Homo sapiens: one gene and its partners. The main gene of each other region encodes a partner of the protein of the gene in region 2 in a complex. Each region holds a gene or a part of one and is shown on either strand. Other genes may lie near its edges.

Evidence for each region.
Region 1: CDC40 (region 2) and SNRNP40 share a complex: the UniProt entries of both Homo sapiens proteins name them as parts of the postcatalytic spliceosome P complex.
Region 3: CDC40 (region 2) and BCAS2 share a complex: the UniProt entries of both Homo sapiens proteins name them as parts of the postcatalytic spliceosome P complex.
Region 4: CDC40 (region 2) and RNF113A share a complex: the UniProt entries of both Homo sapiens proteins name them as parts of the pre-catalytic and catalytic spliceosome complex.

Annotation. Positions count from the first base shown.
Region 1 is NC_000001.11:31,293,778-31,301,731, forward strand, and holds the start of SNRNP40 (U5 small nuclear ribonucleoprotein 40 kDa protein), read right to left. Parts: upstream 3,012-7,954; 5' UTR 2,975-3,011; coding exon 2,834-2,974; intron 1-2,833. Other genes in the region: ZCCHC17 (zinc finger CCHC domain-containing protein 17), read left to right, coding at 3,305-3,436. UniProt on the Homo sapiens protein: Required for pre-mRNA splicing as component of the activated spliceosome. Component of the U5 small nuclear ribonucleoprotein (snRNP) complex and the U4/U6-U5 tri-snRNP complex, building blocks of the spliceosome.
Region 2 is NC_000006.12:110,225,406-110,232,429, forward strand, and holds the end of CDC40 (pre-mRNA-processing factor 17), read left to right. Parts: intron 1-761; coding exon 762-838; intron 839-3,426; coding exon 3,427-3,571; intron 3,572-4,548; coding exon 4,549-4,726; 3' UTR 4,727-6,827; downstream 6,828-7,024. UniProt on the Homo sapiens protein: Required for pre-mRNA splicing as component of the activated spliceosome. Plays an important role in embryonic brain development; this function does not require proline isomerization.
Region 3 is NC_000001.11:114,578,592-114,586,414, forward strand, and holds the start of BCAS2 (pre-mRNA-splicing factor SPF27), read right to left. Parts: upstream 3,025-7,823; 5' UTR 3,001-3,024; coding exon 2,908-3,000; intron 2,801-2,907; coding exon 2,708-2,800; intron 1-2,707. Other genes in the region: DENND2C (DENN domain-containing protein 2C), read right to left, coding at 7,009-7,040. UniProt on the Homo sapiens protein: Required for pre-mRNA splicing as component of the activated spliceosome. Component of the PRP19-CDC5L complex that forms an integral part of the spliceosome and is required for activating pre-mRNA splicing.
Region 4 is NC_000023.11:119,869,961-119,876,187, forward strand, and holds RNF113A (E3 ubiquitin-protein ligase RNF113A), read right to left. Parts: upstream 1,774-6,227; 5' UTR 1,654-1,773; coding exon 622-1,653; 3' UTR 515-621; downstream 1-514. Other genes in the region: NDUFA1 (NADH dehydrogenase [ubiquinone] 1 alpha subcomplex subunit 1), read left to right, coding at 1,952-2,053, 3,344-3,433. UniProt on the Homo sapiens protein: Required for pre-mRNA splicing as component of the spliceosome. As a component of the minor spliceosome, involved in the splicing of U12-type introns in pre-mRNAs. E3 ubiquitin-protein ligase that catalyzes the transfer of ubiquitin onto target proteins.

The DNA of each region.
Region 1 (7,954 bases), on a different chromosome or scaffold from region 2:
TGCTACGTTGCCTAGGCTGGTCTCAAAATCCTGGCCTCCCTCCTTGGCCTCCCAAAGCACTAAGATTATAGGAATGAGCCACCACATTTGGCCTGGCTCATTTAACAAATGATGGAACTGACTTTCCCAACAACTCTGCTTGGTATGGAGTACTGGGTGAAATAGTTTTGTTTTATTTTTAATTTTTTTTGTGTGTTTTGAGACAGAGTTTTGCTCTGTCACCCAGGCTGGAGTGCAGTGGTGTGATCTCGGCTCACTGCAACCTATGCTTTCTGGGTTCAAGGGATCTGGTGCCTCAGCCTCCCGAGCAGCCAAGATTACAGGCATGCACAACCACGCCCGGCTAATTTTTGTATTTTTAGTAGAGATGGGGTTTCACCATGTTGGCCAGGCTGGTCTCAAACTCCTGGCCTCATGTGATCTGCCTGCCTTGGCCTCCCAGAGTGCTGGGATTATAGGCATGAGCCACTGCACCTGGCCTATTTTTATTTCTTATTTTTTCATAGCAAACGGATCCTCAGCATGGGTGAAGTAGTTTTGATTATGGTCTTGGACACCAAGATGACACTTGGGCAATTCATCTAAACATGGGCTGATATGCTCACTTGTCAAATGGGAGAAGTATACTACCCATAATCCCCAAATCTCTTCAGTACTTCCCAGCATTTTCATATTTATTTATTTATTTATTTATTTTTTGGGGAAGGAGTCTTGCTCTGTTGCCCAGGCTGGAGTACAATGGCGTGATCTCGTCTCATCGCAAACTCCGCCTCCTGGGTTCAAGCGATTCTCCTGCATCAGCCTCCCGAGTGGCTGGGATTACAGGCACCCACCACCAAGCCCGGCCAGATTCATTTAGTTTTAAAAAATGTTATGTGCAGGCTGGGCGCGGTGGCTCACACCTGTAATCCCAGCACTTTGGGAGGCTGAGGTGGGCGGATCACTTGAGGTCAAAAGTTTGAGACCAGCCTGACCAACATGGTGAAACTCCGTCTCTACTAAAAATATACAAAAATTAGCCAGGCATGGTGGCGGGCGCCTGTAATTCCAGCCACTCAGGAGGCTGAGGCAGGAGAATCGCTTGAACCCGGGTGGCGGAGGTTGCGGTGCACCGAGATTGCGCCACTCCACTCCAGCCTGGGTGACAAGAGCAAAATTCCATCTTAAAAAAAAAAAAAAGAAGTTACGTGCTAGGCACTGGGCAAACAGCAATGAACAAAATAAACAATGGAGCTCGCTGTTCCAGTGGGAAAGGGGGAAGGGAGAAGGGAAGGTGAGAGAAAACAAGCAAACTATATATGTGGTGTCATGTGCTATAGAGCAAAAGAAGGGATGGGGATGGTGGCTCATGCCTGTAATCTCAGCATTTTGGGAGGCCAAGGTGTGCGGATTGCTTGAGCTCAGGAGTGAAATCCTGTCTCTACAAAAAAATACAATTAGTTAGATGTGGTGGTGTGTGTCTGTGGTCCCAGCTACTCAGGAGGCTGAGGCAGGAGGATCACTTGAGCCCAGGTGGTGGAGGCTGTACTGAGCCAGTGGTCAACACAGAGAGATTGTCTAAAAACAAAAAAACAAAAAAAGAGAGAGAGAGAAGCAATGTGGGTTCCACAGTATGTGGTACTGCAATTTAAAATAGGGTGGTCAGGAAAATCCTCACTGAAAAAATTACATTTGGGCAAATATTCGCAGGAGCTGAATAGTAAACCATGTAAACATTTGTGAAGAGCAATCCCACAGAGAGGACAGCAAATGCAAAGGTCCTGAAGCAGAGGCTTGGAAGAGAGAGTAACTGAAGCCAGGTGAGCAATAAGAAATTGGTCAGAGAGGTAAAGGGAAAGAGGGCAAATAATTACAAGAATTTTGGTTTTTACTCTGGATGAAGTACAAAGCCACCAGAAAGTTTTCTGCAGAGTGTAATGTGATCTGATGTTTAGAAGGATTCCTTTGGTTATTGGCTTGGTAACAGGTGCTGATACAAAGGTAGAAAGTGGAAGACCAGTTAGGGTCCCACTACAAAAATGCCAGATGAGATAATAATGGCTTAGGCCATGAGGCAATGATGGAGATGGTAGAAGTAGCAATTCTAGACCTATTTTGAGGACGGTGCCAGCAGGATTTATTGAGGAGATGTGAGGACACTCGTATTTCCTCGTCTGAGCCTAAACAGGACATTAGAAGTGTGATCACTATTTCTATCTTACAAAAAATGTAGTTAGGAGCATGGTTTCTCAGTTCGAAATCTGCTTCTATCACGTACTTGGTAAGTCTGTTTTTCCATCTGCAAAATGGGTTAATAACGTTCCTAACAGGCTGCTACCAAGATCAATGGAAATTTCATATACGAAACACTTTAGTACAAGAGTCAATGAATGTTAGCTGCTATTTAGTTGTTAATAATACTAGTGCAGAGAAATAAAGGGAAAAGCAACTTGCCCAAAGTCCCAAAACGAGCCAACACAAATCATTTCCCTTTTTTCTTCCCTCCCTCATTCATTCATTCTACACACTCTTCGGAATTTTTGTTCTATGCCAGATCCATGTTAGAGTCAGGATGCTTAAACCCGGGTCAGGGTTTTGAGCCCAAGGTCCTCAACTCTAATTCTAATGCTATCTCAGGGCAGTCGAGAGGCTGAAAACGGGCGCCAAACGGGGGAACACGTACGCAGCATTCGCAGGCTATGGGGAGCTTTTACAGTGTTTATGTGCTTTAACTCTGCGTAGAAACTCTCGTTCTGCCCCCGCAATGCGGGAAAGGGTCAGGGATCACCAGATACAGCGCTCTGAGGGGAGGAAGATGAGCTGAGGGCCAAAGGCCGCCTGCTTCTTCACTTACCGCTTGCAGCAAGGCTCCCGGCGTCGCCTGCTGCTGCCCGGCTCCTGGGCCAGACCCCGCTCCCAACAGCAACTCATGCCGCTGCCGCTTGACTGGAACCAGCGGCAACTCTGGGCCCTTACGCTTCTGCTGTTCTATCATGGCGGCAACCGGTCTCTTCAGCGCCGCCACTGACCGCGCTGCCGCTCTCAGGCGCCACGCAATTGGTTCCAAATTAGTCCTTCCTCCACAACTTCCAGCTTGGAAGAACCAATCGGCTTTCAATATTTCCATTTGCACCGCCCTCGGATAGTCTCTTGTTATTGGGCATATCTTTCTGACGTCATGAGAGTGCGATACCAGGATTGGTGGACGGAGCTGGCGACCGCCCTAGGCGCGCTGGGTCTTGTGGGTGGAAACGCGCTGGCTGACTGGGGTCGGCGTTTAGTTCAGCGCAGCGACTCGGGGACCTGGAGCTGACGCCTAGTACGTATGAGGAAGAACGGGGTGGGTGGCTGCCTGAGTCTGGAGGCGACGCCTCGGTTGTGCAGTCTGAACCTGCCCTTCTCAGCTGAGGGTGCTGACAGCAAGGGGTGGGAGGCGGGCCCCGAGTCCCCAGCTGTGGTAAGTAGTAGCCTGGGCTCCCTTTCGGGGCAGGAGCGGAGCCTTGGGGTCTCTGGCGGCAAGACCCAGCCCCTGCGGCTCCCTTCTTCAAGAGCGCCCATCGTGGCCAGTCCTGTGCCGGGCATTCCCAGGGAGAAAGGCCTGCGTCCCAGCCTCCTCCGGTGCCCCATTTGGCCGAGGAGGCTGACTTGTTTCTGCCACTGATTTTGCAGTTTTTGATCAGGGCCTACTGTATGCCCCCCTGAGAGAGACAGTGATGAAGGAAATGTCCGACTCCTTCTCCAGAGCACAGTCTTGTTGAGAAATTTGAGACTCATGCCCATGAACGTGGTCATTGCCTCAGTCGTCCTGCTGATATTCATTTAGCAGCGCGTTGGGGGTATGTTGTGAACCGGGCACGGTCCCTACTCTCAGGGCGTTTAACTCTGGTGGGGAAAACGTTAAACAATGACCTCACTAATACATGGAAATGCCTCCTACTGCTGCCTGATGCTATGAGTGCCTGAAATAAGCAGGAAGGTTTTTCAGAGGAAAAGATGCCTGCGCTGGTAGCTGCAGGAAGTGTTGTAATTAATTAGGTGAAGAAGTGAAGGCAGAACCTTCCATAGAGAACTACTTGTTCAGAGCCCTGAGGCACTTGGGAGGAAAATGACTAAAAGCACAAAGAGCCAGTGTGGCTGGTACAAAGAGAATGAAGGGAGTATGGTACAAGATGAAGCTGTACGTGATAGCGGTCAGACCTTGCAGGAATTTGTAGCTTTTATTTTAAAACGGATGAGATACCACTGAGCCGTCTTCCCCCAGTGGGGTGTGGTGGAGGAGGGGACTTGATCCCTCAGGCTCAGTGGTGTGAACAGACGGGGGTTGGGGAAGCCCTAGTCGATGTATGTGGACCACTTGGGATATGCAGTAATCCTGGTCAGAGATGTCAGTGAGGACTGAGATATGGGTGGAACTGCAGAGAATTGGACAGATTCTAGAGGTATATAGGAGGTAAAATGGGTGGGACTTGGTGATGGGTTGATTTTAGGGAGTGAAGAGAGGAATCAAAGGTAACTCCTAGGTTTCTGGCTTATGTAGTTGAATAGATGGTGGTACCATTCACTCACTATCACGGAATCCCTCAAGCTGGATAGGGAACACTAGAAGATGATTAGAGACCAGTTTTTTTTTGTTTTTTTTTTTTTTTTGAGACAGGTTCTTGCTCTGTCGCCCAGGCTGGAGTGTGGTGGTGCAACCTTGGCTCACTGCAACCTCCACCTCCCAGGTTCAAGCAATTCTCCTGCCTTAGCCTCCCCAGTAGCTGGGATTACAGGCGCCTCCACTGTGCCCGGCCAATTTTTGTATTTTTGGTGGAGATGGGGTTCCACCATATTGGCCAGGCTGGTCTCCAACTCCTGGCCTCAAGTGATCCACCTGCCTCAGCCTCCCAAAATTCTGGGATTACAGGCCTGAGCCACTGCTCCCAGCTGAGATCAGTTTTTATTGATTGATTGATTGATTGTGTGGGGTCATTCATGACATCCAAGAGGCAGTTTGAAATACAGCTTTGTGCTCAGAAGAGAGATTTGTGTTGGGAATATAAAATTGGGCATAATTTGTATATACATGAATTGAGCCATAGGTGTGGGTAAGGTCAGCTAAGTCAGAACCTTGACTAGTTCCAACATTTAATGGTGAAGAACAGGTGAACCTACAGGAGATACAGAAGAAAGGAAGGAGGACTGGAAGAATGTCTCAGAAGCAAAAGAATGATTTGTGATAGAAATTTCTAGAATTTAAATAACATGAAGATTGAAAAACATATTTTGGCTTTTATCATCATGGAGGTCACAGTAACCTTAGCAAGAGTTATTTTGTTGGTGTGATTGGGCCAAAAGCCAGATATGAGGCAAGGATTTGGACAAGAAAATGTAGGTAGTGAACCTACACAGTATTTTTCATAGATCTGATTGTAAAGAGGAGGAGAGGATGTGCTAACCGATGGGGATAAGGGATTATCCAGGATCCAGTTGAGGATCCAGTTTTGAGAAATTTGAGAATATTGTAGAAGATTTGAAAGTCACTGTGGAGTGTGGGAGAATGAGGTTACTAGAGAAATGTAGGATGCAAGGAAAAAAAAAATTTTTTTCCAGCATATCCAGCGGTTTAGTGCATGCATGGAGAAAACCTTTCTGGGTATGGCAAGGACATCGCTTGCTCAAGACACATTCTAACCTCTAATATGTCTTCTCTTCCTGAAAAATCTGGAAAACTAAAAACCATTTTCTTGACTCCCTTGCACCTAAGGTGAAAATTGAATTTGGAACTGAGTTAAATGTGGAAAGAAGGAGGGTGTGAGTCATCCAGTTTTGCTGCCAGTCATGGCAGTAAATTTCTCCAGTCAATAGCTCCCTGGTTTGGTGGCTTGCTGCAGTGATAGCCATAACTTTCCTGGATTGTGGCAAAGGTGGTATTATTTTGTGGGTTAGGTGTTGTTCCTGGAAGTTCTGCCAAAGTCTTTTATTGCAATACATCCCTTACTGCTTAAGTGGGTTCTGTTGTCTGCAACTGTCCCTGACCAGGTTAGAGGTACTGCCAGAGAGTTAAATATAAAGACAGAGTTAAAGGGAGTTTAGGGTGTTGTTGGAATGATGGGCTATGGAATCTAAGCTGGATTGGAAGAAAACTGAAGAAAAAGGGGAGGGCTGATAGATTGGAAGAAAATAGAGGCCAATAAATCAGGGTTCTAATGAGGTCAAAGAACAGTATTCTCTGCTAGAGGATTTCTGTTTATCCTAAAAGGCTTATTCAGTTATCTGTTTAACTTCTCTACTTCCCCCAGACCCTCTTTCTCTTCCTAGCTACTACTTTTGTTTGTTTGTTTTGAGACAGTCTTACTCTGTTGCCCAGGCCGATTGCAGTGGCATGATTATGGCTCACTGTAGCCTCGACCTCCCAGGCTCCAGTGATCCTCCCACCTCAGCCTCTCCAGTAGGTGGGATAACAGGTATGTGCCACCATGCCTGGCTAATTGTTGTATTTTTTATAGAGATAAGGTCTTGCCATGTTGTCCAGGCTGGTCTCAAACTCCTGGCCTCAAGTGATCTTGCTGCCTTGGTCTCCCAAAGTGCTACGATTATAGGCATAAGCCACCATGCCTGGCCCCCAAGCTTCTGCTTTAGCACTTATCACATTGCAGTGTAATTGGTGTTATTTTGTGGGTTAGGTGTTGTTCCTGGAAGTTCCGCCAAAGTCTGTTATTGCAATACATCCCTTTCTGCTTAAGTGGGTTCTGTTGTCTGCAACTGTCCCGGGCTAGGTTAGACATACTGCCAGATAGTTAAATATAAAGACAGAGTTAAAGGGAGTTTAGAGTGTTGTTGGAATGATGATATCTGATATCCCTATCAGATTAGGAGGTCTTTGAGAACAGGGACTGTGTTGAAAAGGGTGGTTTAGGCCGGGTGCTGTGGCTCACTCCTATAATCCCAGCACTTTGGGAGGCCGAGGCAGGTGGATCACCTGAGGTCAGGAGTTCGAGACCATCCTGACCAATATGGTGAAACCCTGTCTCTACTAAAAATATAAAAATCAGCTGGGCATGGTGGTGTGTGCCTGTAATCCCAGCTACTCGGGAGGCTGAGGCAGGAGAATCGCTTGAACCTGGGAGGAGGTTGCAGTGAGCTAAGATCGCGCCATTGCACTCTAGCCTGGGTGACAAGAACAAAACTCTGTCTCAAAAAAAAAAAAAGAAAAAAAAGGGTGGTTTAGTGGCAAGTGTGTGTGGCCCTTGGAATGGCCTAAGATTTGTCTCTTTCTTGCTGTGTTGTTTTGGACAAGTTATTTCATTCCTGTAAAATAGGATTACTTGCTTTGTAGAGGAGTTTTAGGGATTGAAAGCAGGTTTATAAAGTACCTTATATATAAACATCAATCAATAGCATACTGAATTGATGAATTAACAATTTAAATGGGGTAAAATTAAATACTTCACTATTTTAGTAGACAATTTCCATGTGTGTTACACTGTGCTAGGCACTGGAGATTTGGGGAGGAAGGATATGATGATGTGCAAGACAAAGGCATGCTTACAAGAGTTCCACACTCTACAAAGGGAGGAAAAAAATGTCCCTAAAAATGATTTGAATCCCATCCCCATCATTCATATTTTGCAATCTTGAGCGAGTTTACTTAGCTTCTCTTGTGTCCTCATTTTTAAAATGGCAATGATAATTGCCTGTTTTATGGGATAGTCAAGAAGAGAATTATTGAATGTCATGAAGATAAAATTTTAAAAAGAAAAATTAGTTAAGAGAAGTAAAGCTCTTAGATTAATACATGGCAGATATGAAGCACTCAAATATTAGCTATTATAAGACTTTGAAGGGATCTTAGGAATAATTGACTGAAAGTGTAGTGTCGAGTGGTAGAATAAGTGCTGATCCTGGGGTCTTATACCAATGTTGCTAACTGTGAGCAGCCTTTGTCAAATCACTTGGCTTCATTTTCAGTGGCCTAAGAGTAATAGGTTTAATT
Region 2 (7,024 bases):
GCTACTTTTTAATTTTTTTTTCATTCTTTCATCACTCACATGAGGTTTTTTTTTTTTTTTTATGTTTTTTCTCCTTCACCAAACACATTTGAAATGCTTTACATGTAAACTGAAGATAGTCCAGGTACCAAGCATTTATTTATCATCATTTATCATCATTTCTGGATGGGCTAGATCAGCTCACAGATCCCTACAGCTTTGCCTGCCATCCACCTGCATTGCTGCAGGCTGTTTAACACTCTCACCTCCTCAAGTTAAGGTAGGCTAGCCAGTAAATAACACTTCCCCATAGGCTTACCTCAGACATCTTGCTTCACCCTACCATGGTACATTTTTAATTTAATTTTTGGTTTTATTTCAACAGCTTTTGGAGTAAAAGTGGGTTTTGGTTACATGGATGAATTATATAGTGGTGAATTCTGAGATTTTAGTGTATCCATCACCATGGTACATTATTAAAGAACTTTCTTTCAGTAACAGATTTTTTAACATAAAGGCCAAAGTTTAAATGAAATAGAAAACAAAATCACCACCACTGTTATAATGATCATGGAAAGTGATTTATGAAGTACAGGATTTACCATAAGCAGTACAGTGTCATCTTGTGATTTTTCTTCTTCCAGAAAGTTTCATGAAAGATTTATTAAATATATAATATCAAGAGTTTGCTTTTATTTGCATATTATTCCTTTGTTCCAGAGATAATTCTGAAGGTACTTTTTAAAAGTTGCTTATTCTGATATGCTATTTAAAATTTTTAGGGATATCCCTGTGGATTTCAAGTACATAGCAGAACCCAGTATGCACTCAATGCCTGCAGTGACTTTGTCTCCAAATGGTGAGTTAGTATGTAGATTGTATTTTTAAATGAGCTTCTAAGATACAGTGTGATTTCTTTATTCAAAAGAACTTTGGCCCCTTCCTTCTTGGGGAAGTTTGTCACTGTGCCATTATTTGTATAAGGTAATCTTTACAATATTAGAAAGAATTACTGGTTTTCATATGCAAGTCACCTCACCTACTTTTCTGTGTCTCTTTTTAAATAAAAATAAAAGAAACAATGATTTACAGCTAACATTGATTGAACATCAGATTTTTATTTAACAATCAGTTTTCTTTTCTTTTTTCTTTTCCCCTCCTCTCCCCTCCTCTCCTCTCCCCTCCCCTCTTTTCTTTTCTTTTCTTCTTTTCGAGACAGGGTCTCCCTTTGTTGCCCAGGCTAGTCTCAAACTCCTGGGCTCAAGTGATCTTCCCTCCTCAGCCTCCCAAGGTGCTGGGATTACAGGCCTAAGCCACTATGCCCGGCCAGAGTTTTCTTTTCTAATTCTCCTTCCAAACAGAATCACGTTCAGTAAATCATTTAATAATGATTTGGCCAAGGCAGAAGAATCACTTGAACCCAAGAGTTTGAGACTAGCCTGGGCAACATAGAGAGACCTCATCTCTACAAAATAAAATTTTAAAAATCAGCTGGCATGGTGGTGCACATTTGTAGCCCTAGCTACTTGGTCAGGCTGAGATGGGCAGTTTGGTTGAGCCAGGAGATTGACTATGATCATGTGACTGTACTCCAGCCTGGGCAACAGAGCAAGACCCTTCTCTCTAAAAAAAAAAATAGTAATAGTGATTTACTGTAAACTCTTTCAGGGGATAGGAAGTTTTGGTCTGATTCTCCATAATGAGAGAACACTTTAGCAATTCACTATAAAAGATTTTCTCAGGCAAAAATTAAGAAGATAAATCTATTTAATATTGTTTAATCCATTGTCTTTTACGTACAAGATAATTTGTGCTACAGATATACTGACAATATACTGATGTAATTATAGCTTTACATGAGAGTCTTAAAGTGGGAGTTCTGATGTTTGGGGGACCTTGTCATTGAAACCACTGTCAATTCACATAATTAACTCCAAGTGTAGGGCAAGGAAGAATTTGCTGTTCCATCAGGGCCTCTGACACAAGCAAATGGTAATAGTTGTCAAATGCTCTATCATTTTTATGAGAAGAGAAACCTAACTGAACCTTTTTTTGATCATTGCTAGATTATATACTTCGTCACTGTGCATCTATATTTCATGTAGCGTATTTTTAAACCACCTATTACAGATTTTGTGCCCATCTTGAACAAGGCCATTTACCCACTCAGGCATTATTTAAGTCTGTTTCCTTAGTAAGTAATGTTTACATGTACAGTTGGCCCTTTGTATCCATGAGCACCATATCCTGGGATTCAACCAGCACGAATCCAGAATATTCAACAAAATAAACAATAAAAAATAACAATACAACAATTAAAAACAACACAGCATAACAACTAGGTACAAAGCATTTACGTTGCATTAGGCATTATAAGTAATCGAGAGGTGATTTAATGTATACAGGAGATATGTAGGTTATATGCAAATACTATGCCATTTTATATAAGGGACTTGAGCATCTGTGAATTTTGGTATTGGGTAGGGGTGCAGATCCTGGAACCAATTCCCAACAGATACCAAGGGATGACTATATATAGGATGCAAGTATAGTCATGCATTCCTAACAACAAGGGTACTTCTGAGAAATGCAGTGTTAGGTGATTTTGTCATTTTGTGAACATCACACAGAGTACTTACACAAACCTAGATGGTATAGTCTACTTACCCTAGGCTGTATGGTATAGCCTGTTGCTCCTAGGCTTTACCCCTGTATGGCATGTTGCTGTTCTGAATAATGTAGTCAGTGGTAAGCATTTGTGTATCTAAACATAGAAAAGGTACAGTAAAATCTCAGCATAGAAAAGGTACAGTTAAAATTTAGCACTATAATCTTATGGGACCACTGTCATACGTGCGGTCCATCATTGACCAAAACATTGTTAAGTGGTGCATGACTATAGACGCTGCAGTTTAGGCTCTAGGGGCTTTGATGAATCCTAAGTAGAGAAAAGCATTGTAGCCTTTTAAAAAGTTACTATAATTTTTAATATATCTTTTTTTGTATAGTTTTATTTAATAACCCTAGGCTTTCTCACCCCTTAATCTTTCTTTATTCTGTAATTACCACAGATAAGTCTCTTTCTCCTATTTCCCATAGTTCTGTTGTCTATACTTACTATAAATTAATTTCATTTCACAACTTTTAGCTTATTTCTTTAACATTAAGCTTGGAATTTCTATATTTCCTTATTTTTTTAAAAACTTTTATATGAGAGTGCTCAATGATATAGGATCGTATATGCAAAAGCCATTAGTTTATATATTAATACCTCTTGCCAGTGACATATTTATAACATTTTACAGGTGGTATAGTAAATTTATTTTTTAGTATTATAAAGTATTTGGGAGCAAAACTTATATTAATCACAGTGAACATATTTAAAATAAAAAGTTTTAAAAATTGTTTTAGTCTTCCTCTAAAATACCTCATTTATTGAATTTACAGGAAAATGGCTAGCATGCCAATCAATGGACAACCAAATCTTAATTTTTGGAGCACAGAACAGATTTAGATTAAATAAGAAAAAAATTTTTAAGGGCCATATGGTAGCAGGCTATGCTTGTCAGGTGGACTTTTCACCAGACATGAGGTAAGTTTAAATCTTCTAATCCATTCTCGTATTCAAATATGATTATATAAACTGTTGTTGTACAAATAACACTTGACACATCACTCTCACATAATATGTTTTTATGAGAACTCGATGATCTGTCAAAATTGTCAAAATGCTGGATATAAAGGCAAGAACAAATTAGGAAAATTACATTTTGCTTTTTTTAGGTTCTTGCTTCAGTATATTCCCTTCTATTACTTAGGCTTATGCCCTTTAGCCACCTAATAAATCCCTGTCTATATAACCAATGCCTTATTTTCTCTGCTTTTCTAAGCAAGACTAGAAGTGCTATAATCACTGTATTGCTATGATTGAATGAACACCAGAAGAATTAATTGTGTATTACAGTGTTGCAGTTACAGCTTCACTACAGCTTGTCTGTGCTGAAACCTCAAATCCAGCTTTTGAATATTTCTAGGTCACACTGGATTTGTGAAGCCTACAGCATGGTTCTTAGTTAAAATGTATAGGCAGAAGTAATTTAGAAATCCCAGTAACTTTGTTTGTTTAGCCTAGTAATTGGGCCTACCTCTGATTCAGTCTTAGATGTATTCAAAAGATATTAAAGCCAAAAAGTAATTATGAAAGTGTTAGAGCCTACTGTGATAGAATAGATCTAAAGGTGTTCCCTAGCTATATGTGGAATTGGTTCTCCAGTCTCTGTTTCTGACTATCTAGAGACTGATTGTGTAACCTCATTCACTGTGGCTCCTGGGACTCCCAGTCTTCCCAGTTAAAAATAATTTTCTACTCTTAGATTGGTTGGGAGGTTTTTTTAATAGAATTTCAAATTATAGACTGCTTCATGTTCTACCATCTTATTCTGAGTATTGTATATTTGCATTGGATTTTTTTTTTAATGTTAACGTGAAAAGATAACGTCCCTATTCCTCATTCGCCTTACCAATTTAAGGTATTTTAATAATTTGAATTTATCTTTCTTCCCATTATAGTTATGTGATTTCAGGAGATGGAAATGGAAAATTAAACATTTGGGACTGGAAGACCACAAAACTCTACAGTCGATTTAAAGCTCATGATAAAGTGTGTATAGGTGCAGTGTGGCATCCTCATGAAACTTCTAAGGTCATAACATGTGGTTGGGATGGTCTCATTAAATTGTGGGATTAATGAGATTAATCCTTAAACTAGCTGGGATCATTTTTGATCCATTGTCATATTTATATTTAATTATTAAATGTATCTGATGATAACTTGATTTACAGATAATGTTGATGACATTGACCCTTTGTTTAAAAAAAGAAACTGTAAATTTGACATAATTTCATTTGCAACTTCATTTTGTTTTTTATAAATGTTATTTATACAGAAAGTGGCTATTGACTTTCTATTTGACAAGTAGTTATAATTGGCAAGCAGTTTGAGTTTATACTCATGACATACTGAAAGCATCTCTTTGGGGTCAAGAAAGAATCCCTAGTGGATTTGGGATTCTAGAGGAGGTGTTATAATTAATTATTCAGAAAAATGCATGTATTTACCTCTTCAACCAAAAGGGCAGTAAAGAATAGGGATAATATATTTTAATGTAAATTTGGAAGAAGGATAAAATCACCCACAGTTACTCTCCCTATTATTTTCACTGGGTCAAGTTTTAATCTTTTGGCTTCATGAGTTCCACTCCCTTTGATGATATATGTTGTATATTTTTAGTTGTAAAGCAGTAATCTTTAACTGTAGCATTCCTCTAATTATAAACAGTGAAAAATCAAAATCAGTCCAGAGTTCTTTTGTTGACTTAATTCCTGATCAGTATAGACAGGACTATATATATTTAATCAGAGAATTACATTATATCTGAAGATGGAGCTCAGGAGAATGCACCAAGACTTTGAATTGTATTTACATTCACTGTCAGTAAAGACCTGGCTACGCTTTGAGAAATCAGGATCTCCTAGGTCATTGCTTCGCAGCTGTGATTACTGAAATCCTCCTCATAGGAGATAAAGTACGAGGGGTAGAGTCCAAGATGTCAACTTGTAATTTCTTTGAAGTCATATGTTTTATCTTTAAAATTATTCTTATTTTACCTGTGAATATATACAACAGAACTTTTTAAGATTAAAAAATTTTTAAACCTCTATGTCTGAAAAAAAAAATGACACTCCTGGAAGATGGCTAGGGTTCCCCAGTTTGAGAAGCAGTGGCCATGGTGAAAAATAGTTTTTGAAAACATCAGATTATAAAATCAAGATAGTCCGGACGCGGTGGCACATGCCTGTAATCCCAGCACTTTGGGAGGCTGAGGCAGGTGAATCACCTGAGGTCAGGAGTTCAAGACCAGCCTGGCCAACATAGTGAAACCCCGTCTCTACTAAAAACACAAAAATTAGCCAGGCTTGGTGGCTGGCGCCTGTAATTCCAGCTACTCAGAAGGCTGAGGCAGGGAGAATTGCTTGAACCCAGGAGTGGAGGTTGCAGTGAGCTGAGATCATGCCACTGCACTCCAGCCTGGGCGACAGAGCGAGACTCCACCTCAAAAAATAAAATCAAGATAACCTCTTGAATGTAATAGCTCATAGCACTTTAATTTGGCAAGCCATTTTTCCTGTTTTATTATAAATCTATATTAGATGTTTGAATATGGTTTGAAATATTTCACTACCGTGCTGAAAAAGGTTGGTTGATAGCAGCTTGGAGTGCTAACTGGAAGATCAAAATCATGTCTCTTGCTGATAACCTAAGAGCATTAAGCTCTGAGTCCAGTGAGGTCATAGCAGTGTATGCTCCTTGCCCTTACGGAGTGTCTGTTTTTAGAAATTTAGATTTTAAAAGGCGTGGGACATACGACCAGGCCCTATAGCCACATAAATATAAATTTCATAGAAAAAGAATAAAAGCGGAGATATATTTTTTGACACAGAGGCACCCAAAGAAATACAAACATTGCCTAGCTGCTGCCATTTCTGTAACTGCCCAGAAGGGTGACAGATTTCTGAAGGGGAAAGGATTCAGATATGACCTTTTCTTTAGTCCCAACCACTAGTTTTAACAAATGTGAATTATTGAAATGTGAAGGGACAAAAAGAATCATACATTTAAACTGTCTTGTTCAGCATACCAATATTGTATGTTACAAATCATCATTTCTAAATCTGGATTGATTCTGTTGTGTTTTTGACTGTTTCTAAAGTAAGTGTGTATAAAAGTCTCCTTTTTAAAAAGATCATATTTTTAAATAAAGCATTTTTTGTAGAAAGTGCTATCAAAATGTTCATCTTGTTCATCTTTAGTCTCCTTTTGAGTCTTAAGTGTATTGAGACACTAGATTAAGCCATTTGCAGTTTTAAATGGGTCATATGGAGAGAAATAATGCTTTAGAGGTGGATGTGGTTTATTCAGGTATATCAGTGGGTTTATAATTATATAATAAAATACATGGCAGTACCCTCAGAGCACATTAACACA
Region 3 (7,823 bases), on a different chromosome or scaffold from region 2:
CTTTGAGAGGCCTTCCTCAACCACCCAACCTGGAGTCGCCCAGTCACTTTATCACTATCATTCTCTGTGCAGCATTTATCAACAATTTTTCTGATCTATTTATTGTCTGTCTCAACACTCTAGATTTTAAGGTTCATGAGTATGGACCCTGCCGATACTGTTCTCCAATACCCAGAATGGAACAGACCTTCGTAAATAGTTGTTAAATGAATTAATGAAAGAGTAATTTCAGAGGCAGTTTGAAGAACAGTTAAGGTCTTAGTCAATTAGCCTCTCTAAGCTGCAGTTTTCCCAGCTAAAAAATGGGGATAGCAAACATAGTTATATAGTTTATAGAGCTGTTATGTGCACCAAGTAAGACAGTGAACCCAGTAAATATTACCAACTATTACTAAGAAAGGATGCCAGGTGTGGTGGCTCACACCTGTAATCTCAGCACTTTGGGAGGCCGAGGCAGGTGATTCACTTGAGGTCAGGAGTTCGAGACCAGCCTGGCCACAATGGTGAAACCACGTTTCTACTAAAAATACAAAAATTAGTTGGGCATGGTAGTGCGTGCCTGTAATCCCAACTACTTGGGAGGCTGAGGCAGAAGAATGGCTTGAACCCAGGAGGCAGAGGTTGCAGTGAGCCGAGGAGTTGCACTCCAGCCTGGGCACCAGAGCAAGACTCTGTCTCAAAAAAAGAAAGGATTAAATAATCAGTAAACTAATTACAGGAGAATCACTTGAACCTGGGAGTTTACTAATTAAATCATCAGTAAACTAATTACAAAGGTATTTAAGAGAGAAGGAAAAAAACTGGCAAAAGTATTTTAAAAAGTCTGTGATTGAATGCAGTTATCTGAAACCTTCAGAAATCAGTCCAATAAGGAAGCATTACTGTACTTAGTTCTTAATGTGGTTAACATCTACACCTAGGTACAAATATTTAGAAAAAGCATAGGAAAACACGTTCATAGGAACATACGTCTTCTACTTAAAACTCAGCCAAGGCTGGGCATGGTGGCTTACACCTGTATCCCAACACTTTGGGAGGCTGAGGTGGGTGGATCACTTGAGGCCAGGAGTTCAAGACCAGCCTGGCCAACATGGTAAAATCCCGTCTCTACTGAAAATACAAAAATTACCCAGGCATGGTGGCAGGCACCTGCAATCCCAGCTACTCGGGAGGCTGAGGCAGGAGAATCACTTGAGCCCGGAAGGTGGAGGTTGCAGTGAGCAGAGATGGCACCACTGCACTCCAGCCTGGGTGACGTAATGAGACTCCGTCTCAAACAAAAACAACAACAAACTTAACTAACAATTTTTTCATGTTACTTTAATGTAAATAATATCTTTTTTTTTTTTTTTCCCTTTGAGACAGGGTCTCACTCTATTGCCAGGCTGGAGTGCAATGGCATTATCATGGCTCACTGTAGCAGTCTTGAACTCCCAGGCTCAAGTGATCCTCCCACCTTGGCCTCCTGAGTAGCTGGGGCTACAGGTGCATGCCATCATGCCTGGCTAACTTTTTAATTTTTCTTTTGTAGAGAAAGGGTCTCACTATGTTGCCCAGGCTGGTCTCAAGTGATCCTCACACCTCAGCCTCCTAAAGTGCTGGGATTACAGGTGTGAGCCACCACACCCAGCTAAATACTGCCTTTTAATAATACAATCCTTTCATAAATAAACGATTAGGTATAATGGGAAAAAATCCTCCAAGCTGTACATACTGAAATACTTGAATCCAATAATTTAGAAATGATATCTTACATTTCATTTAGCTAACTAGACCCTAACTAGAATCCTGGGTGTACTTCAAGGTTATACATTTAAAATAGTATCATACTCAATGTGTGGAGTAGAACAGCATCTGACTCCTTAGGCAATCATGGACACTCCCTTCTCTAATCCTCTTGTCCTTATACATACCCTCCGCTATAGGTCCTTTACATATTATTACACATTTATACATACTATTGTAAACTTTTTGTTTTATATATCTAGCTCCTCACTGTATTGTATTTTTCTGTATTCAGAAACCCTATCTTTTTTGGAGAGGATGTTTGTCTTAAATAAAGAAAAGAAAAATTAAAAGAAAACAAAATATATTAAAAAAGAAACCCCATATATCTCTATGATCTCAGAATCTAGAATGGCACCTAGCACTTGTAAAGTATTCATATCAGTGAAAATTATTGCCTACATTAATCAGAAATGTGTTAATAAAAACATCGGATAGATTACAGAAAAAAGGAGAAGGCTGAGAAAAAAGTAGTATACACTTGGATATGGTTTGTCCTTTCAGTCGTATCACATACATTTGGTAAATAACTAGACTTTAATATGCCACTCTCCAGTGGTTCTAAAGAGCTTAGGTAATTAGGCTTATACATATTAAAAAACCCTAGATCACTTGCTGTAGAGTGAATCTTGGCAGGAGAGGGTCCCTTTGAGAATTTACGCATGGATCCTATCTCAAAGAATGGTAGCCACAAATTTTTGCATTAAGTGAGTTGTGGAGCCCCAGAAAGTCTTCCTATGGATCTTAGAATAAGAACCTCGGAGAAGACTTATCTATCTAGTTGTTTTCAATAGACTGACACCTATACAGTAGGTAAGTAGTAGCTATGCAGGCAATGGTTAAAACTGGAATTTAAAGCTCTCAATCCAAAATAAAGGTTCACAGGAATTCTCGTTCACACCTAGGCTCAAGACATACTTACTTCAAAGGCAGAATAATCCGGGGCTGTCAGGTAGCTCAGGTAGTTCTTAGTAGGTCGGTATCTGCGAGTTTCCTCCTCCACCAGCGCTGCAGCCTAAGAAAGAGAATAGGGACCAGGGTAGAAGTGGCAAATTGTAACATGTTTCTTTCAGTACCGAGCCAGCTAGCAGTGAGTCAGCTACAAAGACACCCCGCACTCACCGCTTCCCGCACACCAGGGGCTTCATAACCTTGATCAAAATACGGCAGCGCATCCACCACAACCTCTCCAGCCACCAAACCTGTGCCCGCCATTCTGAGGACCTCAGGTTTGCCTGCGTTTTCTGCGTCTGCGTAAACTCAGTTATATTTAATTACGCCGGCGCCTGACACTGATGTAATCACGTTCCCTCCGTATTGACGTTAGTGCATGCTCAGTTGCTAATTTTGAAGGCGGGTCCGCCCGGTATCTAGAAATTGCCGGGCTGGTTTGTTTTGGGCGGACGTGACGTAACGTCTTGGCTTGTCTGCGTCAGCGAAAGGCCTCAATTTCCTGTCCTCTGCTTACTGCCCCTTTTTTTGCCTGCGAATGGCGGCGATTTGAAGTTGGGGCTTTTCGTTTCCTCCAAAACATTGATATCTGGAAAGGGAGCCCCTTAACACTTTTGGAGGGAACTGGCTGCAGCATTTGGCGGGGAGAGATAAACTGGTTTCCCACCTCTGCTTACTCCCACCTTCTCCCCTTAATCTTCTCTTCCTCTGTGCGAGACTTTTTTCCTTTTTTATTGTAGACACAGGGTCTTTGTTCTGCTGCCCAGGTTGGAGTGCAGTGGCGTGATCATAGCTCACTGCAGCCTCAACCCCCCGGGCCCAAGCGATCCTTCCACCTCAGCCTCCCGAGTAGCTGGGCCTAGAGGTGCACACCACCATGCCTGGCTAATTTTTAATTTTTTTTGTAGAGATGGAGCCTTTCTATGTTGCCAAGCCTAGCCTCGAACTCCTGGCCTCCCAAAATGTGGGGAATACAGGCGTGAGCCACTGCACCCCGGGTCATTCCTCTTTTACTTCCTTGCTGTACCCCAACTATCCTTCCCCCTCGGTGCCCTTAAAACCTTTGCATTGGGTAAGTACATTTTTTAAAGAGACTCTAGAATTGGGCGCCAGTCTCCAATTAAAATTGTGAAGCTTTATGGTCTGCGTATCAAAAGGAACCTCAGTTCCTTAAAAATCCTGTCATTTTGCCTTTAGGACTTAACGGTAATAGAATGGCATTCCTCACTGCCTCCGAACCACTCAAGCTGCTGCCCATGCACTCTCTTCTGCATGGCTCCTGGACTAAGCAGCCTCCCTTTGATTAAGCAGGTAAAAACCAAATAAAGTTGTCAGACTATATGCCCTGCCCAGTGTGCAGTCTAGACCCAGCCTTTGTCTGCCAAGAGCCTGGAAATGTTGACCTCCGTTATTAAGCCTGGTCAGTCTAAGACTAATTCTTATTACCGAAGTACCATTAGGTAAATGTGCTAGCTATAGATTTAAGTGACATAAAAGATCTTAAAGAATTCTCCAAGGGATCTGTGGGGGGTTTATGTATTTATTCATTAAAAGATCTGTAAACAACATTTTATACAAATCTTGATTCTTTTACAAAAATATCCAGAATTCCTAACACTTTACAGAAAACACAACAGACCTAAGGAAATGAAGCAGCTTCAGGCTGCGAGGATGAAGACACCATTGCTGAAGCAAAGGTCTCCTCCTAGAGGGATAGCCAGGATCCATCACAGTAAACCCTTTTACCCCCATTTTATAAACATCCAATTATTAACTGTTCCTGCTGGGTTGGAGTGTAAGAAGAGACCAAATGGAGAGATGTCTAGTAGAAGCCCCACTGGGGGTAACCTGCTTAACATTAAAAAAAAGACAGGCTCAGTTCTATTCCCTGGACCCACATCTGTAGGAATTATATTATACAGCACCAGTCTTAAATGGTGTTCTGCTTCAGATTCATGCATACCTGAATGGGTTGTAATGACAATACTGTACAAGTCAATAAACTGTATCACAATACAACTTACACAGTTTTGTAAGGTTGAATAAATACTTTCTGTGCCAGTTAAAACCATCAGCAGAAACTGAAGAAAACAAACTGACATTTGCTATAACATTAATCAATGAAAAGTGCACCATCTGAACTTGAATTTGCCCATGAGTTTGAAAACACACACACACACACACACACACACACACAGGCCGGGTGCAGTGACTCATGCCTGTAATCCCAGCACTTTGGGAGGCCAAGGTGGGTGGATCACCTGAGGTCAGGAGTTCGAGACCAGCCTGGCCAACATGGTGAAACCCCCGTCTCCACTAAAAGTACAAAATTAGCCAGGTGTGGTGGCGGGTGCCTATAATTCCAGCTACTCAGGAGGCTGAGGCAGGAGAATTGCTTGAAGCCGGGAGGCGGAGGTTGCAGTGAGCCGAGATCACACCATTGCACTCCAGCCTGGGCAAAAAGAGCGAAACTCCATCTCAAAAAAAAAAAAAAAAAACCGAAACAAAACACACACACACACACATACACACACAAAAAAAACACTGCACCATCACTGAAAACTTTCTCTTTCCAATCACTACTACTACTACTTTAGATATTAAAGGTCTGGATGACTAAGTGGTATATGTTCAAGGAATGTTCATATTTTGAGTCTAATTTAATTAGAGCAAAAATTTCAACATTTCTAGGGGAATAAAAAGAGTCTCATCTAGGCACCTATAAAGTTCCTTATCCTCAGAGCTGAAAAGTGGCTCTGGTACACTTAATAGAAAATTTTTATTAATAAAAGAAATAGCTATATAATCCTACTGAGATGAAATTTCCATCTGTAGGACTAACCAACTTTTTCTGTGTCCATAAAAGTCTTGGCTTCAGTTCTGTGTTGTACAACTTTGGGCAACGTATTTAACTTCTTTGAATTTGTTTTTTTCTTTTTTCTTTTCCTTTTTTCTTTTTTTTGAGATGGAGTCTCGCTCTGTCACCCTGGCTGGAATGCAGTGGCGCGATCTCGGCTCACTGCAACCTCTGCCTCCTGGGCTCAAGCGATTCTCATGGCTCAGCCTCCCGAGCAGCCAGGATTACAGGCACCTGCCACCACACCCAGCTAATTTTTTGTGTGTATTTTTAGTAGAGACAGAGTTTCACCATGTTGCCAGGCTGGTCTCGAACTCCTGACCTCAAATGATCCACTCGCCTTGGACTCCCATAGTGCTGGGATTACAGACGTGAGCCATAGCACCCAGCCTCAGTTTATTAGTAAAATGGAGATGCAAATATCTATCTCATAAGGTTGATTTAAGGATTGGTTGAGATGATATGCATACATATACCACAGTGCATGGCACATGGTGGACACTAAAAAATAAAGGTGGCTCCCATGCCCTTGAAAGGACATTTTCATATTAGCTATAATTTCACAAAGTTTAAATTTATTTACTTATTTTTAAAATGTTTTTGTAGAGATGGGATCTTGCTATGTTGCCCAGGCTAGTCTCAAACTCCCACCCTCAAACTCCTGCCTTAGCCTCCCAAAGTGGTGGAGATTACAGGTGTGAGCCACTGCATCCAGCCTCCACAAAGTTTAATGTTGACATGTGAGGCACAAGCAAACTACTCAAATGCCACATAATTTGGAGGAGGAGTTGCAAGATGTCTAATTTTATAAGGTACTTAATAACAGTACCTTATAATATTACAAGTAGGGCTTCCTCCTAAGTGAGATTCCCCTAGATATAATATAAGGCAAAACAATGGAGATATGTGATGAGTCTATTCCTTAGCCCAGGTCAAACAGCCCATGGGTTTAAAGGGGCCATGATAGTTCAGTGATGAGAATTATGTGTATAAGGCTAGTGTTCTCCATTTCCATCATGTCTCTCTACTACCTTAAACTCAGCATTTCTCTCATTATTCTCATCTTTGAGCTATTTTTTAAATGTAACAACAACAAGGCTTTTCCTTGTGAAACACAACTACTTTCACAGACAAAGCACAAAACAGAGAATGAGCCCAAGAATCACATAGAAAAGGCTGCTATAAAAAAAAAATGGAGACAGAGTAAAGATGGCATGGTGCCAGACCATTCCCAACAATTCTCCAGTGATTACTACAGCAGCAACAGGAGAATCCTCCTCTAACAGCCTGACTCGCTCTTTAACCTTTTAAAATTTCAAGAATTTTGTAGAATACTTCATGGGATCCTGACCCTTAGAAAAATATTTTCTTTGGCACTTTCTGTTGTATATTCAGGATGGAGACAATCAGAGATTTCATTTCTTTTGCAGAAATTTCATTTTGCTTCCTAAAGGGAAAGAAAAGTACAGTGAATGCTCAATTCATTTTTATTTATTGTACATTATTTGAGGTAAGGGATTAACAGGTCAGTCATTCAGAACAGCCCAAGAGTTAAGCTGACATCTCAAACTCAGTTGATGTGTTTAACCCCCAAAACAAAAACAAAAATGAACCCCAAACCCCATATGTCTAGTTAATTGTAGCGGCAGAAAAGAACTCAGACATCATGTAATCCAGTGGTTTTCAACCTTGACTATAGGTTAAAATCACCTGGCTTCTCCCCAGAGATTTCCTGGAGCCCAGGGGAAAATTTTTTTTAAGTTCTCTGGAAATTATAAAATGTAGTCAGAGCTGGGAACCACTGATCTAATCTAACCCCATTGTATAAAGATGAAATAACAGCCTAAGGCCTAATTTGTCCATGGTCTGTCAGCTAGTGAAGGACAGGGCCTAATTAGGGGGCATATATTTCAAAGACAAAATATAAATATCGTAGCATATAGGTTATTCATTATTTTAGGCTAGCCACACCCCTGTTCTCTTGTATCATACTAATTAACTATTACTGAAAAATCATAAATGTGTTTCTGTATGAAGTAGAAAATTAGAGACTTGTAAGAAATCCTCTTTTGCCTCAGAAGTCCCTCTAAACCAAGTGTTTTTAATCTGGAGTACCAAAGATAGACTTCATGGGGTATATGAGCAGCCTAAAATTATGTGCAAAATTTATTTATATGCTGTAAATACATTTTTCTGGGAAAAAGGACCATGGTTTTTATAAGATTCTCCA
Region 4 (6,227 bases), on a different chromosome or scaffold from region 2:
GTCTCAGCTACGCGGGAGGCTGAGGCAGGGGAATCGCTTGAACCGGGGAGGCGGAGGTTGCAGTGAGCTGAGATCGCGCCACTGCACTCTAGCCTGGGCAAGAGAGCGAGACTCCGTCTCAAAAACAAATAAATAAATAAATAACCAAGACAGCAAGGAACATTTCCCATATGTGAAGCCTGTGGTGCTAGCTACCAGTTCCCCAAACACAACCCCTCTCCCCAACACCTTGGCTCGGGTATATTTTGTAGTACAGGCTCCCAAGAGAAAGAATGCATGAAAGTACTTTGTAAACTATTAAGTGATACAGAAATGTGATATAATAAACAGGCTCAGAGGTCTTGCTTTCATCATGGCTTTGGTTACTTCGAGCAAATTATAGCTCTTTTCTCAAACTACTCCCACCCCTATAATTTATGCCAAAGTGTTCTGAAAAGAAACACAGGCAAAATGGTTATCCTAGGGCTAAAAATCCTGATTATACCTACCTTGAAGCTTTTAATCCAGGACCCTACTTCACCACCCGCCTGCTCTGTCACTTTCTCTACAAAGGAAGGACACGAAGTAAGACTTCCAAAAGAACAAAACGTTTATTTTTTAAATTTAAGAATTATGGGAAACCTAAGTAATGGGAATTGCATCCTCATCGGGGTCTTCTGGCAAGTCGGAAGCACCACCCTCTCCTGTAGCTCGATGCTTCTCTAGTTTAGCAATCAATTCTTTCGCTGGATTGAAGACGCCATTGGTCTGCTGGTCACAGACATAGCAGCGCGGGGTGGTGCGGAAATGCTGCAGTGCACAGCTCTCGCAGAAATAATGCCTGCACTTGGTGACAACTGGGTTTTGGAAGCTCTGGCGACAGATGAAACACTTGAATGGTATTTCCTCATCATCGCTTCCCACTTCATAGTTTTCATCCTCATAGACACCATAGCGACCCTCATCAAGCTCACGTTCGATCTGCCACCCATGCTTGTAATCTGAACGGTCATGGAGGAATTTGCAGCTGTCTCCGAAGCCGCAGAAGCCAGTCTCTTTGTAGTCCTTACAGATGTCGGGCTGGTAATCCCAGCGCACGGTGGCACGTAGATGCTCGGGCGCTCGGATGGGGCCCTTCCTCACCATCCCGGAAGAGGCATTGCCCATAGACGTATCCTTGGGCTTCATGTATTTCTGATAATTGTTGATTCCCCGATAGATCTTGTCATCCTCCTTGCCCCTCAGCTCCTCCTGGATCTTCTGGCTGCGCTCAAAGATGGCTTGTGCATCGCGCTCTTTCTCTGTGTCCAGCTCATAGACAGCTGTCGCTCCCATATCCTCTGGTCCCACGGGTTTCGCCGAACGGGTGGATTTATAAACCACGCCGAGACTCTCGGGCTCATTTTCCTCTTCCTCTTCGCTGCTCAAGTCGCCGTAAGCCGCCTTCTGTTTACCACTGTCACGGGTCTTCTGTATCATTGGATTGTGGGTCACCCGCTTCTTTTCCGGTCGAACCACAGTGCAGCCTTCGTCGCTACTGCTGCCGCTTTCTCCGGGCTCTGGGTCGCAGGCCGGGCGCTTTCTGCGTCCAGCAGCCCCTTTCCGCCCAGGCTTTTTGAAAAGGAAGGTGCACACCTGATCCACCGCCTTTCCTGGAGAAAGCTGCTCTGCCATTTTAGAGTCCTGAGCTCCGAAACAGCCGTGGCTGCCTGGGTTGCACTTGGCCCCTGCACGTCACTCCACGTTGCGCGCTCCGCCGGGAGTCGAAGCAAAAGACACTGACGGAAGAGGACTGCGAGAGCCCGAGCGCCCGTCTCTCTTGTGCCCTAGCAGATTCCGTCGCTTCTTCCGGAGCCGTACGTGGCACCGCCCCGCTCGCGGGCGGCCGCGGGGCTTGCTGGGAAGAGAGGCGAAGCCAGGTCACCTTTCAAGGACCCAGAAGTAGGGTTTTGGCCTAGGTAACGGGGCAGAGATGTGGTTCGAGATTCTCCCCGGACTCTCCGTCATGGGCGTGTGCTTGTTGATTCCAGGACTGGCTACTGCGTACATCCACAGGTTCACTAACGGGGGCAAGGTAAGCCGGCTTCGGCCCGGGGGCCGACTCCACGGGCTGATTTCCGAAAAGGGTGGTGGGCAGGGAGACCGTCAGCCTGCGAACCCTCTCTCCGAGGTCGGCCCTCTACTTGCTTCCGGTTGCCTAGAAGCCGAGGCTTGCGAAACGAAGCCCGATAGAAACTACATCCTGCTCTAGTGAAAAACAGCGTTTCTGGGTGTATCAGAGTGGGCCTTAGGGCAGAGTAGCGACGCGGGGGCCGGGAAGGTAGATTAGAAAAGGTGGCTCAAGCCTGAGAATCGCTCACTGCAACCTCCGCCTTCTGGGTTCAAGAGATTCTCCTGGTTGGGCGCGGTGGATCACGCCTGTAATCCCAGCACTTTGGGAGACCGAGGCGAGCGGATCACCTGAGGTCGGGAGTTCGATACCAGCCTGACCAACATGGAGAAACCCCGTCTCTCCTAAAAATACAAAATTAGCTGGGCGTGGTGGCGCATGCCTGTAATCCCAGCTACTCGGGAGGCTGAGGCAGGAGAATCACTTGAACCCAGGAGGCGGAGGTTGCGATGAGCCGAGATCGCGCCACTGCACTCCAGCCTGGGCAACAAGAGCGAAACTCCGTCTCAAAAAAAAATAAATAAAGAAAGAAATTTTCCTGCTTCAGCCTCCCGAGTAGCCGGGACCACGCCTGGCTTTTTTTTTTTTTTTGTAGAGGCGGGGTTTCATCATGTTGGCGAGGCTGGTCTCGAACTTCTGACCTCGGTTGATCCACCCGCCTTGATCTCCCAAAGTGCTGGGATTACAGGCGTGAGCCGCCGCGACCGGCCACCCTTGACTTTTTTATTCCCCACTTTCTCTTGCAAGCCTTTAGGAATTTACTGCGAGATCTTGTTTTTTTACATCAGGATTCATTTTCCCCTCTTCCTAGTCCTTCACATCATCTCAAGAGTACAGGATATAAATTTATTTACTTTTTGATTTTGTTATTGTTCTTCACGTGTGATCTACAGCTGTTGTTTCTTAGTGTCCCAAAAGACAACAACTAGATATTTCTTTTTTTTTTTTTTTAAAAAAAAAGGAAAAAAAATTCATGTTGGTTAAAATAGTGTAAAAAGTCACAGGTACCAACTTAATCCTAAAGTTTAGTGGTCTGATTTTATTTAGGAGATTCTGTTCTTTGTACTACTAATTTGCATTTTTATTTAAACGATGATTCCATTTCTCTGGAATGTCCCTTTTAAAAATTGTAGTATCTATCAATTGGGTCACTCACTTTTATAAACTGCAACAATAATTGTCTCTTATTTGAAGGAAAAAAGGGTTGCTCATTTTGGGTATCACTGGAGTCTGATGGAAAGAGATAGGCGCATCTCTGGAGTTGATCGTTACTATGTGTCAAAGGTAAGATGCCACTCTGATGCCAGCCTTTTGCCAGGGTTGAGGTGGGTTCTGGTAATGCCTTGCCAAGGGTCATACAGTGCTAATATATAACTAGCATTTTCTTATCTACTAGTGAGGTTGGCATCTTTTTACATATTTAATCTTTTATATTTCTTTTTTTTTTTTAGTTTTTCTTCTGTCATATATTTCTTATTCTGTGGATTGTTGCCTATATCCTTTGCCTGTTCCATTGTCTTTTTCTTTTTGAGCTATGGTTCTTTATATATTCTAGACTTTAATTTTTTTGTCTATTTTATATATGACATTTTTCCCAGTCTGCTGTTTGTCTTTTTTACTTTATGATGTTTTTCATCAGGTAGTTCTAAATTTTGATATTCAATGTATCATGTTTTGTTGTTCTGGATTCTAGGTTTTTATGTCTCCCGTACAAAGGCCTTTTCTATCTAAGATTATAAAAATACTTTCAAAAAATAAAATAGAGACAGTCTTGCTGTGTTGCCCAGGCTGGCCCTCAAACTCATAGGCTCAAGTGATCTTCTTGCCTCAGCCTTCGGAGGAGCTGGGACTGCAGGTGTGCCACTATACCTGGCTCATAAAAATACTTTTAAAAAATAATTTCTCCTAATATTGTTAGTTTCTTTAAAAAATTAGTTATTTGGTTACATCTACAGGTCATTTTGGAGTATAATGTGAAAGGAGGATTAACTTTACTTTTTTCCAACAGGTAGCTAGTTATCGCAATTACCCATTTATAGAAGAGTTTAGTAGTCCTAGCTACTCAGAAGGCTGAGGCAGGAGGACAGCTTGAGCCCAGGGGTTTGAGGCTCCAGTGAACTAGGATCGTACCACTGCACTCCAGCCCGGGCGAGAGAATGAGAGCCTGTCTCAAAAAAAAAAAAAAAAAAAACCACCAAGCACCCAATTTATTTTTATTTGTAATACCACTCTGGTAAACTAAATTTCCATGTACACATGGGCCTGTTTCACGGATGTGCTTTTCTATACTCTAGGTCTGCCTATTCCTGCAACAATACTTCATTTAAAGAATTACTATAATTTTATATTTTGATTCAATTATGACATTGCCATTTTTGTAGGTCAAAAACGACCAAGCAGTAGCATTTCATAAGGCTCAACTTAATAGTATATTTTTTGTTTTTCTGTCTTTTTTTTTGTTTTTTGAGACAAGGTCTCACGCTGTCACTCAGTCTGGAGTGCAGTGGTGCAATCTTGGCTCACTGCAACCCCCGCCTCCCGGGTTCAAGCGATTCTTGTGCCTCAGCCTCCTGAGTAGCTGGGATTACAGGCACCTGCCACCATGCCCAGCTAAATTTTTTTTTGTACTTTTTGGTAGAGATGGAGTTTCACCATGTTGGCCAGGCTGGTTTCCTAACTCCTGACCTCAAGTGATCCGCCCACCTCAACCTCCCAAAGTGTTAGGATTACAGGCGTGAGCCCCTACTCCTGGCCCTAATAGTATGTTTTTATATTTTGTAGGAGTAGTTCATTCTCATACTTCTTTTAAAAATGTTTACTTTTTAATATTTTCTCCTTCCTCATTTATTCCTCACAACAAACCTAAGTAAATAGTATTTCCATTTTATAGACAAGGGTCAGAGTGATTAAGTAATATTATAAGGACTCAACCTGGGTGATACACCTCTCAGTAGAGAGGTAGTTGAGAATCTAATCCAATGAACATGATAATAGATATCTACTTATCTGGAGCCATATTTCTCAAAGTATGGTCCAAGAATAACCATCAGAATCACCTAGCATGTGAGACAGAATTAGGATTTCTAAGAGATGGCTCCAAGGAAGATACAGTTTTAACTTCTCTTAAGGCAGTTCTTCCTGTAATAGTAAACCAAATACCTGGACTATGTTATTTAATACCTAGAAGAAGTGTCATCACTGATGAGTCTTTTTTTTTTTTTTTTTTTTTTTTTGAGACGGAGTCTTGCTCTGTCGCCTAGGCCGGAGTGCAGTGGAATGATCTTGGCTCACTGCAAGCTCCACCCACCAGGTTCAAGCAATTCTCCTGCCTCAGCCTCACGAGTAGCTGGGATTACAGGTGCGCTGTAATTTTTGTACTTTTAGTAGAGACAGGGTTTCACCATCTTGGCCAGGCTGATCTTGAACTCCTGACCTCATGATCCACCCACCTCGGCCTCCCAAAGTGCTGGGATTACAGGCGTGAGCCACCACGCCAGGTGTAATCTTTTAATTTATAGCTTCTGAAGTATTTGGTTGTCAACTTAGTAAGATCCAGTAGGTATTTTGAATAGATAGTGTAGTGCTTGTCAGAGAAGGGTTCGGGAGTTGGGGTCCCTGAATTCTGGCTCTGCTAATTCCTTATGGACTTAAGCAGGTGACTTTTAACCTCTCTGAGCCTCCATTTCCTCATTTGTAAAAAAAATGGAATGAGAATAATAGTATCTACCTCATGTTGGCTGTTATTTTTTAAAACAGATTTTACCTTCTTGTCCTCTGACTCACTGAGGTGCTTTGTAAAAGGATCCAGGTGGAGGCCAGGCATAGTGGCTCACACCTGTAATCCTAGCACTTTGGGAGGCCGAGGCAGGTGGATCCCCTGAGGTCGGGAGTTCTAGACCAGCTTGGCCAACATGGCGAAACCCCTTCTCTACTAAAAATACAAAAATCAGCTGGGCATGGTGGCACATGCCTTTAATCCTAGCTACTTGGGAGGCTGAGGAAGGAGAATTGCTTGAACCTGGGAGATGCAGGTTGCAGTGAGGCAAGATCGCATCACTGCACTCCAGCCTGCATGACG